Regions from separate parts of the Homo sapiens genome. Here region 2 is linked to region 1. The links come from fine-mapping of genetic effects on gene expression. A gene starts in region 1. The other region holds a variant in brackets. All regions are shown on one strand. Distances are from middle to middle.

Region 1 (8,432 bases):
TGCTGGAGGGACCCGGGCTTTCTTCCAAAGGCACTGGGAGCTGTGAGTGGTTTTAGGCCACAGACCGATGTGACTGACTGAGGGGCCAGGCCCTGGGGCTCCATGCTCCCTACACAAGCCAGGTGCGGTCCCACCTCAGGACCCTCGCACAGGCTATGCCGCCTGCCCAGAGCTTCCTGCAGCTTCCCGGGCCGCACCCCCTCCTTCAGGCCTTCTCCCAGCACCTGGCCCCCTCCCCACCCTGAGTGTTTGGACAATGCTCACCACCTTCTGCTGGACAGTATCTTACTTGCTACTCATAAGGTTGACTGTGATACCCAGCTTTCTCCCCTGGCTGGCTCTCTGAGTCAGCTGTACTGGCCTCTGAGTCAATACTCGGCCTGGAGTAGGTGCTTAATAAGTTTTTGTTGATTTTTTTTTTTTTTTTTTTTGAGACAGAGTCTCGCTGTGTCACCCAGGCTGGAGAGCAGTGGTGCCATCCTGACTCGCTGCACCTCCCAGGTTCAAGCGATTCTCCTGCCTCATCCTCCTGAGTAGCTGAGATTACAGGCATGTGCCACCACATCCGGCTAATTTTTATATTTTTTATTAGAAACAGGGTTTTGCTATGTTGGCCACGATGGTCTCGAACTCCTGACCTCAACTGATCCGCCTGCCTCGGCCTCCCAAAGTGCTGGGATTACAGGCGTGAGCCACCGCGCCCGGCTTTTTTTTTTTTTTTTTTCTGAGACGGAGTCTTGCTCTATCACCAAGCGCTGGAGTGCAATGGTGTGATCTCAGCTCACTGCACCATCTGGCTCCTGAGTTCAAGCGACTCTCCTGCCTCAGCCTCCCAAGTAGCTGGGATTACAGGCGCCCACCACCACGCCTGGCTAATTTTTGTATTTTTAGTAGAGATGGGGTTTCACCATGTTGGCCAGGCTGGTCTCAATCTTTAAATATTTTTTAAATTAAAATAAATGAGCATGGCTGGGGGGGTGGCTCACACTTGTAATTCCAGCACTTTGGGAGGCCGAGGCGGGTGGGTCACCTGAGGTCAGCAGTTGGAGACCAGCCTGGCCCAACATGGCGAAACCCTGTCTCTACTAAAAATACAATAATTAGCCGAGCGTGGTGGCAGGCGCCTGTAATCCCAGCTACTCCGGAGGCTGAGGCAGGAGAATCGCTTAAACCCGGGAGTCGGAGGTTGCAGTGAGCCGAGGTCACGTCACTGCACTCCAGCCTGGGCGGCGACAGAGCGAGACTCCAACTCAAAAATAAATAAATACATAAATAAACAGATAAATACAGAGTACTCCGGCCTGGGCAAGGGGTCAGAGTGAGTGTGCCGAGGCCAGGGAGGGTCCCCGTGCACACTGACAGGCGCTGGCCTGGGTAAGCCTGTGGGCTGCAGAGCCGTCGCCAGGATCTGGTGACAAGGACCCCGAGCCACAGCCTCCCTTGTGACTTGCGGGTTCTGCCGGCGCCTGCAGGAGGCGTCTTTCTGCTTCTCCCACTGCCAGGCATGGGCGGTTCTCGTGCCGTGCGGGTCCCGCCTCCTCCCTGCTCCCAGCCGCGAGCCCTGGGGCTCTGGCGACCTGCCCGGCCTGACATCTTCCCAGGGTGAACATAAAAGAACCCCCTTCAGCTGGAGCACGCATCTGCCTCGGGGCGGGCCACAGCCTGGCACTGCCAACTGTGCCGCCCGCCCGGCCTCTCCCGCACCACCTTGGGACAAACAGCTGTCCTGCCCGCCTATGCGGAGGTGGCCGGCGGGGCCGGCGTGGGGGCGCAGGGATCCCCAGGGTGTGGGGCAGCCAGGCCGAGGCGAGAGACACGGTCGGGCTCAGCCCATCCACTGTCAGCCGGGCACATGCTGGCCCTCCCTCAAGTACCACTGAGTGCCTCCTGGGTGTAGGAAGAGGGCCATCTCTGCCCCGGTGGCCTCGAGGTGCAGATGGGTGGGGGGCACCCGGCACACGGGACATCGTGGCTGAGAGGACGTCAGGCCAGGTGCCAGGAGGGTCCCAGGAGGGCCTCCTGCCTCCAGGTGGGGATGTTCAGCCTCCACTTCTTCGAGTGTGACTGTCTGTCTCCTCTCTCTCACTTGCCAGCTTCCTCACCTGCCCCCTCCCGGCTGTCTGGTGGGCTGGGTGGCTAGGGACAGAGGCCTCATGTCACCTGGCACCAAGCAGCACCCACGCCCAGCCGGCTTCGGCCCAGAAGCAGAGCCTTGGGAAGCACCTGTCTCAGAGCTGGGGACTGGAGGCACTGGGGGCACAGCTGCACCCGGAGTCCGAGGGGTCGGGGAAAGGAGGCAACCCCGGGGCAGGGGGCTCTGGTACCCGTGCGAAGGCGCTAGTGGGCTTTGGGTCTCCCTGTGACCCCAATCTAAAGCCCACCAGACCTAGAGGAGACCCCCGCCGCACGGCTCCCCAGGGCACTGTTTGAGGGGTGGGTGGGAACCCCACACCCTCGGGTGGCTTTTCCAGTTTTCCTTGTCTGGCTGGGCTTGGCCTCAGTTTCCTCAAATGCAGACCAGGGAGAGGAGTGCCTGAGTCTCCCAGAACGGCGCCCAAGCCGGCCTGCCCCTCCCCACGCACTCAAGGGTCTCTGTCCAGGGCCCACAGGCGACCCAGCAAGGGCTCCTGTGACCTTTAGAAACACCCTTTCGTCGTGGAAGTCTTCAAACCTCACAGAAAGCAAGGAGGCGCTGGCCGTGGCGGCCTCTCCCGTCTCCCAGGCCCGCGTCCACCCTCCCCGCGCCGGTGCCCTCCGGACAGAGGTGGAAGCCGCGGCGCAGGAGAGGCGGCTCCGGCCGGGCAGCGGGGCCCGGTGACCTTGGGCGCGTCCTTACACGTCGCGGGCCTCAGTTTCCCCTCCTGGGGAGAGGCCCGCGCGGGGCTCCGAGGCCTCGGGCCGCGTGACCTTGGGGCGCCCCCGACCCCGCGGCCCGAGTTTCCCGGCGCCGAGCGGAGGCGGCGCGCGGGGAGGGGGCGCAGCCGAGGCGGGTCTCCCGCCCCCGCCCCTCCCCCGCCCCTCCCCCGCCGCGAGGCTCCGCCCCCCGCGGCTCCGCCCCGCCCCGCCCCCGCCTCCCCCCTCCCTCGGGCTCCGGCCGGCGGCGGCGGCGGCGGCTCCGCTCCGCACTGCCCGGCGCCGCCTCGCCATGGACGCGCGCGGGGGCGGCGGGCGGCCCGGGGAGAGCCCGGGCGCGACCCCCGCGCCGGGGCCGCCGCCGCCGCCGCCGCCCGCGCCCCCCCAACAGCAGCCGCCGCCGCCGCCGCCGCCCGCGCCCCCCCCGGGCCCCGGGCCCGCGCCCCCCCAGCACCCGCCCCGGGCCGAGGCGTTGCCCCCGGAGGCGGCGGATGAGGGCGGCCCGCGGGGCCGGCTCCGCAGCCGCGACAGCTCGTGCGGCCGCCCCGGCACCCCGGGCGCGGCGAGCACGGCCAAGGGCAGCCCGAACGGCGAGTGCGGGCGCGGCGAGCCGCAGTGCAGCCCCGCGGGGCCCGAGGGCCCGGCGCGGGGGCCCAAGGTGTCGTTCTCGTGCCGCGGGGCGGCCTCGGGGCCCGCGCCGGGGCCGGGGCCGGCGGAGGAGGCGGGCAGCGAGGAGGCGGGCCCGGCGGGGGAGCCGCGCGGCAGCCAGGCCAGCTTCATGCAGCGCCAGTTCGGCGCGCTCCTGCAGCCGGGCGTCAACAAGTTCTCGCTGCGGATGTTCGGCAGCCAGAAGGCCGTGGAGCGCGAGCAGGAGCGCGTCAAGTCGGCGGGGGCCTGGATCATCCACCCGTACAGCGACTTCAGGTACCGCCTCCGGGAGGGCCGGTCGGCGCGAGGGGGCCCGGGGAGCCGGGCGCGCGGGGAGCCGTCCTTGGAGCGCCTGGGGAGGGCGGGGCGGCGCGCCGGGCCGGTGACCTCGGGGCTCCTCGGTGACCTCGGGCGTGTCCGGGACCCGCCCCGGAGTGACCCCGGCGCGCGAGGCTCCGCCTCTGGGGGGGCTCCCCGGGTGACCGCGGAGCGCCCCCCTCCCACGCACCCCGACATCCTCCGCCCTGCGGCGCGGCGGGTGGGGTGGGCCGCAGGGCCAGGGTCTGAGCGCAGAGGGGCAGAGAGGACGAATAGAGGGGAACGTGGGCCCCAGAGAGGCGGCGGAGCGGGAGGGAGGAGGAACGAAGGGCGCCCGGGAAGGACGCGCCCCAGGGAGGCCGGGGGAGAGGGGGTTAAGCGGCTCCCACGGCGTCCACCCGCGCCCCGCCTGCGAGGAGGCGCGCCCGGGGCCGCGGGCCTGGAAAGCGTGCGGGTCCCCAGGCTGTGTCCCCGGGAGCCGCTCCACCCGAGCCGCGGGCGGTGCGCGCATGCGGCGGTGGGTGTGTAGACGCCGCTGTGGATCCAGCCGGCTAATGCGTGGAAGGCTCGGAGCAGGGCCGGCGCGGGGCCACCGCCACTGATGTTTGCGGTCGTGGTTCCTGGGCTGTGCGTGCTGTGGCCGGAGAGCGAGACCGGCGCGTGTCCCCGTGGGCTGTGTGTGAACAGGGGCCCGTGACCGCGGCGGGGTTCCCGGGGCGCGAGCCTGTGGCCGGAGAGGTGTGTCTCCAGGAGTGTGTTTGCGTGGTGGTCGCGGGCGTGTGCGCCTCCGGTGGGTTTATTTTGGTGGGACGTGTGGTTTGTGTGTGTTGGGACCAGGTGGCGGGCGTGCGCGTGTACGCCCGGGGCCGGTGTGCACCGGTGGGCAGTAGTGTGAGCCGCAGGCAGGTCTCACACACGCGACCATGGAGGGATGCGTGTGTGTTTGTGTATCCACGAGTGGGGTGTGAGGTGGGGTGTGGAGGGTGCAGGTGGAGGGTGTAGGTGGGGCCCGCCGGGCTAGCGAGGCCGGGCGCGCGGGACGGGCGCGGTTTCAGCACCACGGACAGCGCGCCGGACCTGGGAAGCCTGCGGTTTTCCCGCCTGTCTCTCCTCCTCCAGGCCTGGGCGCCCCAGGACAGCCCCCACGGACCCTGGACCCCCGGAACTGGGCAGGGAGGCTGTGGGGTTCTCTCTTCCCCTGGATTCTCTGCACCCCTAGTGCTTGACTGGAGAAACTGAGGCCTGGGGCACATGCGTCCTGGACAGAGCCTGGAGGAAGGCCCTGGAATCCTCCTCCCACCCCAGGCCTTCCTGAGAGGTGAATACAGCTTTGACCAGAAGCCTGGATTTCGAGACAGGCCAGGGGTGGGAGGAGCCCCGAAATCCCCAGAGGGGCTGTGTCCGGCCCCTCCCACCCTGCCTCTGTGCCCCACCGGGAGAGCTTGGTCAGCATCTGGGCTCTGGCCTGCGAAATGTGGACAGTGAGCGGGAAGGACTGGACTTCCAGGGCTGCTGGTCGGCCTGGCCCCACTTCCAGTCGGGCAGTGGCACCCCCTGACCGGAGAGGGACGCGGTGGAGAGGGAGCTGTAGAACGTGCCCACTCCCCTCCGTCCCCTCCAGCATGACCTTCGACAGAGATGGGTGCACCGCAGCGTGGGGGCTGGCAGGTGGAGGCCCACACCAGCCACTCCCTCCCCTGGGCAGCTCCAGCGACCCCCTGGCTGCAGAGGGGCGGTCGGTGGCCTGGGGGGCAGGTGGGCAGATGGCTGATCCCGGGGCTTGGGGGGAAGGCCGGTGGTAGGAGTGAAGCCCTCTCATCCTTCCACCCTCCTTGGGCGTGGTCGCCTGGAGGCCTGGGCAGGCTGTGGCCCCGCTCTGTGCTCTGAGGCATAGAGGGCTCAGAGGCCCCTGTGTGGACCAAGTGCAGCCCCACCCCGGCAGATGAGTGTTGAAGTGGAACTGAGCAGGCAGGGAATGGGGTTAGCGGGGCCTGTCTTCGGGACTAGGGGAGTCACGGCAGTCAGATTTTAAAAAAGGATTTCGATGTTGCCAAGCTGGGTGCACGGGGCCCCTAGGACCCTCCCCAGGCTTGGGACCTGTGCCAGTGTGGAATCAGTGTGGAAAAAGACCCCCAAGAATATCTCAAAAGCTCCCTAAGCAGGCGGCCGGACCCTGCTGTGGAGGGTGTTTTGGGGCAGCCCACAGCAAGCGAAGGGGCCTCTACGTTTGCAGCTGACTCAGGAGCCTGGCCCCAACTGGCTTCGGGCCCAAGGCCTCCTGTGCCTGGCTGGGTGTCTTGGGTCCTCGCTGGGCCCCTCTGCCTCAGTTTCCCCAATTGCACGGTGGGGATGGTATGAGGGAGAAGGATGGGGTCTTTCACAGCCTTGCCAGTGTCTCAGCCTCACGTCTCACACTCTCTTCACCTCCCCTTCCTGCTGAGAGAGTGCTGTGCTCCTTGCCCAGCCTGTGCCCCCCAGGCACGCCCTCACCCCGGTTCTTCCTCGCTGCCCAGCTGTCTCCGCCACGCCCAAGTCCACCCTGCTCCCGTGCTCGGAAGTGGCCTCTTTCACGCCCCACGTCCCAGTCCCAGTATACAGCAGGTGCCACATATTTGCTGAATTTTCTGAGGGGCAGAGCATGGGTCCTGGGCTGACGTGGGTCCAGATTTCGGCTCTCAGGCCTGGGCGGCTGGCCCCTTTGGAAGTGCAGTTGGTGCCAGGGTGCAGCGGCTCACGCCTGAGATCCCAGCACTTTGGGAGGCTGAGGCGGGCGGATCACCTGAGGTCAGGAGTTCGAGAGCAGCCTGGCCAACATGGTGAGATGATCCCGTCTCTACTAAAAATGCAAAAATTAGCTGGGCATCGTGACGAGCGCCTGTAATCCCAGCTACTCGGGAGGCTGAGGCAGGAGAATCACTTGAATCCAGGAGGCAGAGGTTGCAGTGAGCCGAGATCGCGCTGCTGCACTCCAGCCTGGCTGACAGAGTGGGACTTGGTCTCAAAAAAAAAGAAAAGGAAGAAGAAGTGCAGTTGGTCTATTGCTGAAGTCTCTGGGGCTGTGGGTGGCTCTACACCCCGGCCTGACGTCTGAAAGTCCCCAGAGGCATGCTGGGCGCTTCCCTGGGGTGCTGGTGGAAGAGCAAGTTCAAGGACCCAAGTTCAAGGTTTTGGGTTCCAGAGGCTCAAGTTCCCTTCCTTGTAGGTGATCACGGTTGGTGCCTGAATTGGAACAGGCGTGAAAACCAAGAAGGAAGGGGTTTGGCCTTATGCAACCCCCAGGGCTTCGGCAGGGTCTTCTGTGCCTCCCAGAGCAAAATTAGGTCAAAAATAAGTATAGTTCATTCCTACTCCCTTCACCCCAGCCGCCGCTGATTCTAAAGGCCACACAGGTCCACTTGGGAAAGCCTGAGTCGTGCAAAGGAGGGTGTCTCCGCAGGAGAGGGGCAGGGGCTGGAGGTCTCTGCACGAGAAGGGCTGGGGCTGGAGGGTGTCTCCGCAGGAGAGGGGCTGGGGCTGGAGGGGACACGAAGGCCCAGGGAGGGGCGGTCTGAGGAGGTCGCGTTCTCCGAAGCTTGCTGTCATCCACCCTCCCTGCCCCCGGTGTCACCGAGGGGGCTGGGCAGACCTGGCGGGGTGGAGACCTGGGCAGATCCGGGGTTTGTGCCCTGGGAGCTCTGGGGGGCACAGGGCAGGTGTCGGGTGGAGAGAGGCTGGCGGCTTCCTGACTGCCCTCGGTCCAGTTCCAGGGCTAAGTGCCCTGTGGCCGCCCTGCCGTCTCCTGCTGCTGCTGACTTGCAGGTCTGTGTTTCTGAATTGTCTTCAGCTGGGGAGGCCCCGTGTGAGGGGAGACAGACGAGATGCTCCCCAAAGCCAGGATCTGTTATGTCCCCTGGGGTCCCCGAGAGGACTGGTCGGGGAGGAGCTGCTCCAAGACCCCACCAGGACAGGCGGCCCCTGGGCCCCGCCTCAGATGGCTGAGTGGGTCAGCGGGAGATCAGCCTGGGGGTGCAGCTCTGCAAATCCGCAGTGATGAATCCCAGCATTAGGGCGTGGGAATAAACCCCCCATTATCCTGGGGGGATGGCCCCGGGGGCAGGGCGAGGCGAGGGTTTGTCTGGCTCTGGTCACGGCAGGAAGGCCCAGCGTGTGCAGGATGGTGGGGTGTGCATGGACCCATATCCCAGGTGGCGGTGGCCTGCCCTCTGGTCTGCGTGGAGGGGTCAGGGGTCGGGGTGGCCAAGGCCTCCCCGCTCTCTTCAGGGCCTTCCCTATGTTCCCTGCTCGAAAACGGACATCTTTGTCCAGGCACTGTGGCTCATGCCTGTAATGCCAGTACTTTGGGAGGCGGAGGCGGGAGGATCGCTTGAGCCCAGGAGTTCGAGACCAGCCTGGGCAACATAGCAAGACCCCCATCTCTACAAAAAGTTAAAAAATTAGCCAGGCGTGGTGGCGTGCACCTGTAGTCCCAGCTACTCTGGAGGCTGAGGCGGGAGGATCACCTGAGCCCAGGAGGTTGAGGCTGCAGTGAGCTATGATCGTGCCACTGCACTCCGGCCCGGGAAACAGAGTGAGACCCTGTCTCAAAAAAATAAAAAAAACCTAAAAACCCACAT
Region 2 (8,864 bases), 21 kb after region 1:
CGTGCCACTGCACTCCAGCCTGGGCGACAAGAGCGAAACTCCGTCAAAAAAGAAGGAATAATAAATGAAGTTAGGTCCCAGATACTCCTTGCTTCCTAGCTGAGATGTGCTGACTGTTAAGAAGGGTTAGTTATGGGAGCCCTCGGCCGCTACAGTCAGGTTAGTGGCCAGTGAGCCTTTGTCCCTGCCTGGGGAGTGCTGTGCCCCAGCGTCCAGCCACATATGGGACTTGGGATGTGTTTGGTTTGGACACAGAGCAGGTGGGCATTGATGGGGTCAGGAGCTACAGAGGGAAGACCCGCCAGTGCCCCTCCCCAGAGCCTGGCACAGCTGCCCAGGCTGAGGCAGCCCATTGTCTGGCTGCCACCCGCACATGCGGTCCCATTTCCTGAACAGAGCCCCGCGGCTCCCCTTTCCCGGCCGGGTCAGCTGAGGACTTGGTGCGGCAGGACCTCCTGGGCCGGCCTGGTGTCTCTGCCCGCCCTGCCCCTCTGCTCTGGCCCAGATGCTCCCTGGAACTTTTGCCCCCTCTTGACCTCACAGATGCTCTGATCTCAGAGGCTGCAAAAGGCGGGACCCAGACTCTCGCCCTTGGGGTCTCAGTTTCCCCAGGAGTGAAGCGGGCAGGTAGAATCAGCCCTGGCCCTCCTGCCAACTCACTGTGACAAGTGTGCAAACCATGTCATCTACCTGGGTCTCCATTTCTCTTGGTTACCTCTGAACATGGGGAGCTCACCACCTCCAGTGCTTGGCAGAGGGTGGGCGCTGGGCCCTTGAGGACCGAGGGCTCCTGGGGCGTGAGCACCTGCCCACCACCGCCCCTCCTGCTGGCCTTGCAGAACCACTCGTGGAGTGAACTGTACTCCTTCGCACTCTTCAAGGCCATGAGCCACATGCTGTGCATCGGGTACGGCCGGCAGGCGCCCGAGAGCATGACGGACATCTGGCTGACCATGCTCAGCATGATTGTGGGTGCCACCTGCTACGCCATGTTCATCGGCCACGCCACTGCCCTCATCCAGTCGCTGGACTCCTCGCGGCGCCAGTACCAGGAGAAGGTCTGAGGGAGGCGGGCCCCGGCCTGGGTTCTGATGGGGGAGGCGGGCCTGGATCTGGGGTCTGAGAGAGAGTCAGGCCAGGCCCTGGGGTCTGATGGAGGGAGGCAGGCCCGGTCCTGGGGTCTGAGGCTGGAGGGAGGCCTTGCCCTGGGGTCTGAGGGCGGAGGTAGTCCTTGTCCCGGGGTCTGAGGGGAGGGGCGGGCCCGGCCCCGGGGTCTGAGGGGAGAGGCAGTCTCAGCCCTTCACTCAGCTTCAAGTGGCGCGCTCAGGGCAGAGACCGCGTGATGGGGAGCAGGGGACCCTGGGGGTCTGTGGCTGTGATTAGGAGGAGAAACGGCCGGTGGTGAGAGGTTCTCTGACCCTGTGACAGGGAGGGAGGTCCAGAGCCTGGAGATGGACGTGGGGCGGGGGCTGGGGAGGGGATGCAGGCTGGGCAGGAAGGGGTGAGTTGGGATCAGGGCAGGACAGGGTCAGTCTTTGGACATCGGGAAGCCCCCGGGCTGAAGGGGCATTGCCAGGAGGCTGGGCCCACCTGGGGGTCTCTAGGCCGGCTCAGGATGGGGCTGGGTTAGGGAAGGGCCTGGCGGGGTCTGAGAGGCCTGGGGTTGCTTCAGGACACGCCGGTGGCCGGCAGTCAGGGCCAGGCTTCAGGGAGAGCAAGGCTGCCCCACTGCTCAGATGCGGCCTCTGGCCTGCAGCGTCCATTGGGTTAATCCTAGGCTTGGCAGTGGAGGGGACACGGGGGAGCTGGGAGGGGTGGAGGGAGATTAGGATTGGCCCCATTGGCAGCCCCTGGAGTTGGGCCTCATGCACCACTCTGTGCCTCAGTTTCCCCATGTTAGGCGGCTGGCTGGTCCTGGCTGGGAGCCAAGTGCCCCCCTCTCCCGCGCCCCGAGCAGTGGCTGGCTGGGTCAGCTGGGCCCCGTGCCAGGCGCCCTGCTGTCCGGAAGCCACGGGCCTCACACCCAAACATAAGCTGGTGCCACCACCCGCCCGCCGTCACGGGTTCCGCTGAGCTCAGGGCAGCTGCGGCCGGGCGGGGCTGGGGCGGAAGTGAGGCTGGAGCTGCCGGGGGGCACCGTCCTGGGGACAGCAGGGCCTGGCACCCCCGCCCAGCACCCACGCTCCCTTCCCTGCTCAGGAGGGGCTGACCCGATGGTTTCTGGAAAGATCATCAGGGAAGGGCCAGAGCCCCCGGGAAGGGGGTCCTGTGTGTCAGGGTACCTGGGGCCTCTCCTCGTAGAGTCAGGTGCCCACCCATTCCTCAGGGATAGGGTTGCTAGATAAAGTTCAGGGCACCCGGCCTGGTGCAGTGGCTCCTGCCTGTAATCCCGGCACTCTGGGAGGCCGAGACAGGCCGATCGCCTGAGGTCAGGAGTTTAAGACCAGCCTGAGCAACACGGCGAGACCTCATCGCTACAAAAAATTAAAAAATTAGCAGGGCAGGGTGGTGCACACCTGTAATCCCCACTACTCAGGAGGCCGAGGTGGGAGGATCCCTTGAGCCCAGGAGTTCAAGACCAGCCTGTGCAATATGGCGAGACCTCATCTCCACAAAAAATAAAAGAATCAGCCAGGCGTGGTGGCGCACACCTGCAGTCCCTGCTACTCAGGAGGCTGAGGTGGGAGGATTGCTTGAGCCCATAGGCGGAGGCTGCAGTGAGCTGTGATTGCACCACTGCACTCCAGCGTGGGCCACAGAGCGAGACAGTGTCTCAGAAAAAAAAAATGGAATTTATCATTGAAACGAATTCAACTTTGATTTAAATAGAAGCATGTTTATTTGCTCTTGTTGAATCTGGCCGCCCCTGTGTGTGGCGGAGGCCTGTCTCCCCGCTGTGGGCGGGGGCTTTGTCTGACCCAGCCCTGACCCCCCACAGTACAAGCAGGTGTGAAGGCCTATCTCCCCGCCACAGGCCGGGGGGCTGTCTGACCCACAAGCAGGTGCCCGTGTGCCCGCTGCAGGCTGGGGGCGGTGTCTGACCCAGCCTCGCCTCCCCACAGTACAAGCAGGTGCCCCTGTGCCCGCTGCAGGCCGGGGGCGGTGTCTGACCCAGCCTCGCCTCCTCCCCACAGTACAAGCAGGTGGAGCAGTACATGTCCTTCCACAAGCTGCCAGCTGACTTCCGCCAGAAGATCCACGACTACTATGAGCACCGTTACCAGGGCAAGATGTTTGACGAGGACAGCATCCTGGGCGAGCTCAACGGGCCCCTGCGGGAGGTGAGGCGGGCGCCGGGCGGGCGGGAGGCAGCCTCCGGTACAGGGCCGGCCTCCCTCTCCTGGAGCCCAGGAGCCGGTCCCTGAGGGAGGCGAGGTGCCTAGGCTGCAGCAGGAGGGACTCGAGCTAGACCTGCGTACACACCCTCCCCTCCCCGCCCCGTGAGCCTCTGCACCCCCAGGACCCCCGCCACCCCCGCCTTGCTTCCCGCTGCCCCCTTAGCAGAACTGCCTGGGTCTGT[G/A]CCTGACAGGGCGGGGCAGAAGCAGGGCAGGGGGTGGGGAGGGAGGAGCCGCAGAGGCCCCGCTGAGCACCAGGTCCTGGGGGCACTGAGGCTGATTGGAGCGGGTTTAACTCCCAGCTCTGTTCCGGTAGCCTGAGTGACCCTGGGCAAGTTTCCCAGGGTTGCGGGAACAAATACCCACAGGCTGAGTGGCTTGAACAGCGGAGATTCGGCCTCCCACCGTCCTGGAGGCCGGAAGCCCAACATCAAGGCGTGGGCCGGGCCGTGCTACCCCCCCGGAGCCCCTGGGGAGGATCCTTCCTGCCTCTTCCGGCGTCTGGGGCTCCAGGCGCCCTTGGCTTGCAGATTGATCTCCCTGATCTCTGCCTCCATCTGCTCACAGCCTTCTCCCCTGTGTGTCTCTGTCTCTTCTTGTAAATTCATCCGTCGTTGGATCAGGGCCCACCCGGTTCCTCGTGGCCTCGCCTTAACTGGGCCATGTCTGCAGAGACCCTATTTCCACATAAGGTCCTATTCACAGGAACCGGGGGTCAGGATGTCAGCCTGTCTTTCTGGGAGATGTAGTTCAACCCACAACACACATCAAACAGTTATTGAGCGCCGACTGCGTGCCCTGCCGTGTGCTTGAAGGTCCCACCCTCAGGAAGCGGGGCCTAGGGATGGCGGCCGTGATCACGCAGGCAGCAGAGAGCAGCTCTGGGAAGCGGGGAGGGACGAGGACGGGGAGGCGACATCAGCAAGGCCGTGTGTGAGCCAGGCAGGGTGTCCCCGGTGTAGCACCTGGCTCGGGCAGAGGCCCCGAGGAGGGGCTGGAGGAGCTGGGCGAGGAGGCGGGCAGGACGGGCCTGACACTAGGGACCTCGGGCCCCGGGAATGCCTCTGGGGGGGCGTGTACACCCGTTGCTCCCAGGAGGCACACACTGCGGTTCGCTTCGCCAAGAATGTTTAATTGCATTTGATGACTACGGTTTCCATTCATTCATTTGTAGAGATATAACACTCAGACCACAAAATGCATAAAATGCGGTGGCTTTTAGTATTAACAGAGTGCTGCACCCGATACCACAGCCTCACTCCAGAACATTCTCATGGGCCCAAAAGGAGACCTGGGGTGTTAGTCACCAGCTCACTCCCCGTCCCCAGCCCCTGGCAACCCACGCTACTTAGTCATTATTTAGGTGTTTAGGAGTTGCAAAGTCAAATCTTTAAACCCACATATGGCCAGGCGTGGTGGCTCACGCCTGTAATCCCAGCACTTTCAGAGGCCGAGACGGGCAGATCACCTGAGGTCAGGAGTTCGAGACCAGCCTGGCCAACATGGTGAAGCCCCGTCTCCACTAAAAATACAAAATTAGCCGGGCGTGGTGGTGGGCGCCTGTAATCCCAGCTACTCTGGAGGCTGAGACAGGAGAATCGCTTGAACCCAGGAGGCGGCGGTTGCAGTGAGCCGAGATTGTGCCACTGCACTCCAGCCTGGACAACAGAGCGAGACTCCGTCTCAAAAAAAAAAAAAGTACCAAAAAGTGCCCCAGGTCATAAGGGCACAGCTCGATAGCTGGTCCCTAAAGGGAACGTGGTGTAACCACCACACAGAACGAAGCTGGAACGTTCCTGCCGTCCTTAGAAGCTGCCTTTGCTAAGGGGAATTGCCCTGACTTCCCACACCATTGATTCATCTCCAGACCCTTGGTTTTCATGTTGATTTTTCAAAAATCACCTGATAGTCTGACCGAATGTAGCTTTCCACTGGTGTGTGTGTGTGTGTGTGTGTGTGTGTGTGTGTGAGAGAGAGATGGAGTCTCGCTCTGTCACCCGGGCTCCAGTGCAGTTGTGTGATCTTGGTTCACTGTAACCTCCTCCTCCCGGGTTCAAGAGACTCGTGCCTCAGCCTCCCGAGTAGCTGGGATTACAGGCACCCGCCACCACACCCAGCTAATTTTTTGTATTTTTAGTAGAGATGGGGTTTCACCATGTTGGCCAGGCTGGTCTCGAACTCCTGACATCAGGCGATCCACCCACCTTGGCCTCCCAGAGTGCTGGGATTACAGGTGTGAGCCACCACGCCCGGCCTTATTTTTCCCCCATTTTCTTTTTTTTTTTTTTTGAGTCAGGGTCTTGTTCTGCGCTCAGGCTGGAGGGCAGTGGTGTGGGGATCACGGCTCACTGCAGCCTCGACTTCCTGCACCACCACGCCTGGCTGTTTTTTTTTTTTCCGGTAGAGACGGGGGTCTTACCGTGTTGCCCAGGCTGGTCTAGAACTCCTGGGCTCAAGCGATCCTCCCGCCTCGGCCTCCGCAAATGCTGAGATCACACGCGTGAGCCCCCGCACCCGGCCTCCTTTCCACCGCTCTTGTCTACAGCCGCCCCTCCTGGTCCGATTGTATTGGCAGATGTCGCCAATACGGTGTCAAACGGCGAAGGGGCACTGAGCGTTTTTTCTTTCTCCCGTCCTTGGCGGCAGCAGCTCGGTTCCGGCTACGGGGCTGAGCCCGTCTCTCAGACGAGGAAACTGGGGTCCGAGAGGTGAGCCGGTCCCAGAGGCAGGGCGAGGGGGAAGCGGGAGTGGGGTCCGCAGCGGACCCAGCCCTGCCTCCCCCCTGCAGGAGATCGTCAACTTCAACTGCCGGAAGCTGGTGGCCTCCATGCCGCTGTTCGCCAACGCCGACCCCAACTTCGTCACGGCCATGCTGACCAAGCTCAAGTTCGAGGTCTTCCAGCCGGGTGACTACATCATCCGCGAAGGCACCATCGGGAAGAAGATGTACTTCATCCAGCACGGCGTGGTCAGCGTGCTCACTAAGGGCAACAAGGAGATGAAGCTGTCCGATGGCTCCTACTTCGGGGGTGAGCTTGAGGGGGGCGCGCCTGGAGGGGGAGGGGGCACGCGACCCCCGCGGTGTGCAGAGCCAGGGGGCCGGGGCCGGGGCCGGGGCCGGGGATGGGGATGGGGATGGGGATGGGGCCGGGGATGGGGATGGGGATGGGGATGGGGCCGGGGATGGGGATGGGGATGGGGCCGGGGATGGGGATGGGGCCGGGGATGGGGCCGGGGATGGGGCCGGGGATGGGGCCGGGGCCGGCACCAGGGAGAGCCTGGGTGGGAAGCGCCCACGCTGGCCAAGGTGCAGAGGCCGGGCCGTGTGCCTGGGCGGGGAGGGCCGCGGCGCCCGCCTCGTCCAGCAACCCCCCCCTGCGCGCCACGTGCAGAGATCTGCCTGCTCACCCGGGGCCGCCGCACGGCGAGCGTGCGGGCTGACACCTACTGCCGCCTCTATTCGCTGAGCGTGGACAACTTCAACGAGGTGCTGGAGGAGTACCCCATGATGCGGCGCGCCTTCGAGACGGTGGCCATCGACCGCCTGGACCGCATCGGTGAGCGGGCCGGGGGCGTGGCCGGGGCGGGTGCCCTGGCGGGGGAGGGGCGTGGCCAAGGCATCAGGAGAGTGGCTTGGACAGTGGCAGGGGGAAGGGCGTGGCTGTGGCATCAGGGGCACGGTTGGGGCAGAGACGTGGCCAAGGCATCAGGAGTGTGGCCATGGCAGCAGGGGCGTGGCTGGGGCAGGGGCAGCGGCTGGCCGCTCCTAGGACCCCTTTGGGTCTAGAGGCTGATTTTCTGACCTATTGTCCTACTTCAGCCAGAGGCAGCCTGTTTCCCAAGGGAGGGAATGCACAGGGTGTTTGCGGTTGTGCCGAATGCTCGGTGAGCACCTGCTGTGTGCTGGGGGTGCAGGGGACAGACCCGGGGGCCCACTCAGACTCCCAGGGAGGCTTATGGACTGGTGATGAAATCACACACGACTGGGCTGTGTGCCAGCAGGGCAGGTGGGGCCGGTGGGCTTCCCTGAGTTGGGAATGCAGAGTGGAGACCAGGGTAAGGGATGCCATGTGGAAACGGGGAGGAAGATGTGTTCGTGGAGTGGACACAGCACATCCCAAGGCCCTGAGGTGGAAAAGAGGCCTAGAGTCCAGAGAGCCAGGGAGGCCTGGAGGAGGTTGGGGAAGAAGGGGAGGCCAGACACACAGGGCCCAGTGGGCGGCAGGGAGAGTTTAGACTAAATCAGGAGCATCAGGGAGCCATGGAGGGTTCTAGGTGGGCGGAGGACCTGGTCAGATTGTATCCGCCAAGGCGGGCCGTGTCCAGGAGGGAGACGGTGACCTGGCCTCTCAGGGGGGCAGTCTCTGGGGCAGGGAGGGGCAGAGCCCTGATGACTGGATGTAGGCGCCAGAGAGATGGCGGCTCATGCTGCTGTTCGTGGGAATGGGAATGAAGACCATGGCTGAAACGCAGGACAGGTGCGACGGAGTGGTGTCAGGGAGCTCCCTGGTGTACAGTAGGAAGCTCTCCACAACTTGCTCTATACAGTGAGTATGCAACCCGTTCCTGAGTATCAGGTGCTTAGGTTATAACTTCTGTATACAGCAGGTGCTCAGCACAGGCTGTGTACAGGCAGGTGTTTTCGGTATGCCTGTGGCACACTGGAGGCAGTCATTACATAATCAGCGTATACAGGTGGTACACATGCATACTTGGTGCACAGTGATACCTGCTCCATGTACACAGCAGGCATTAAATACCTGTTTACTGCCAGGCGCGGTGGCTCACGCCTGTAGTCCCAGCACTTTCGGAGGCCAAGGTGGGTGGATCACGAGGTCAGGAGATTGAGACCATCCTGGCTAACATGGTGAAACCCCGTCTCTACTAAAAAAAAAATACAAAAAATTAGCCGGGTGTGGTGGCGGGCGCCTGTAGTCCCAGCTACTCGGGAGGATGAGGCAGGAGAATGGTGTGAACCCGGGAGGTGGACCTTGCAGTGGGCCGAGATCGCGCCACTGCACTCCAGCCCGGGCGACAGAGCAAGACTCCGTCTCAGAAACAAAGCAAAACAAAAGCCCTGCTTTCTGTATGCAGGTGCTTCATGCATGCTGGCTGTGCATAGCAGGTGCTCAGCCTGTATATGGCAGGTACTCAATATCCATACTATAGGCCAGAGATGCTACATATGTGCTTATTGTATACAGTAGGTGGTAAATGCATGCTTGCTCTACACGGCAAGCACTGTGTGCGCACCCGCGGTGCAGAGTAGGTGCTCGGTGCCCGCTGTACGCAGCAGGCGCTCCCTGTGCACACGCTAACGCCCCCTCTCCCGCAGGCAAGAAGAATTCCATCCTCCTGCACAAGGTGCAGCATGACCTCAACTCGGGCGTATTCAACAACCAGGAGAACGCCATCATCCAGGAGATCGTCAAGTACGACCGCGAGATGGTGCAGCAGGCCGAGCTGGGTCAGCGCGTGGGCCTCTTCCCGCCGCCGCCGCCGCCGCCGCAGGTCACCTCGGCCATCGCC

The links.
Region 2: its variant is fine-mapped to the expression of HCN2 in whole blood (TOPMed, PIP above 0.99). The same link has a PIP of 0.9 or more in blood mononuclear cells.

The regions. Positions count from the first base shown.
Region 1 is chr19:586,801-595,232 of GRCh38, forward strand. It overlaps HCN2 (hyperpolarization activated cyclic nucleotide gated potassium and sodium channel 2), which reads left to right and starts at 3,081. Exons shown (of 8, transcript NM_001194.4): 1 at 3,081-3,777. The coding sequence starts at 3,146. It also overlaps the pseudogene LOC100420586. RefSeq lists an enhancer at 1,271-1,850.
Region 2 is chr19:607,125-615,988 of GRCh38, forward strand. It overlaps HCN2 (hyperpolarization activated cyclic nucleotide gated potassium and sodium channel 2), which reads left to right. Exons shown (of 8, transcript NM_001194.4): 4 at 840-1,058; 5 at 3,135-3,281; 6 at 6,124-6,364; 7 at 6,728-6,892; 8 at 8,671-8,864. It overlaps LOC107987266 (a long non-coding RNA gene), which reads right to left and starts at 6,349. Exons shown (of 2, transcript XR_001753828.2): 1 at 5,755-6,349; 2 at 2,816-4,030. RefSeq lists an enhancer at 3,786-4,095 and a silencer at 6,215-6,396. The variant G/A (reference allele first, on the strand shown) is at 3,521.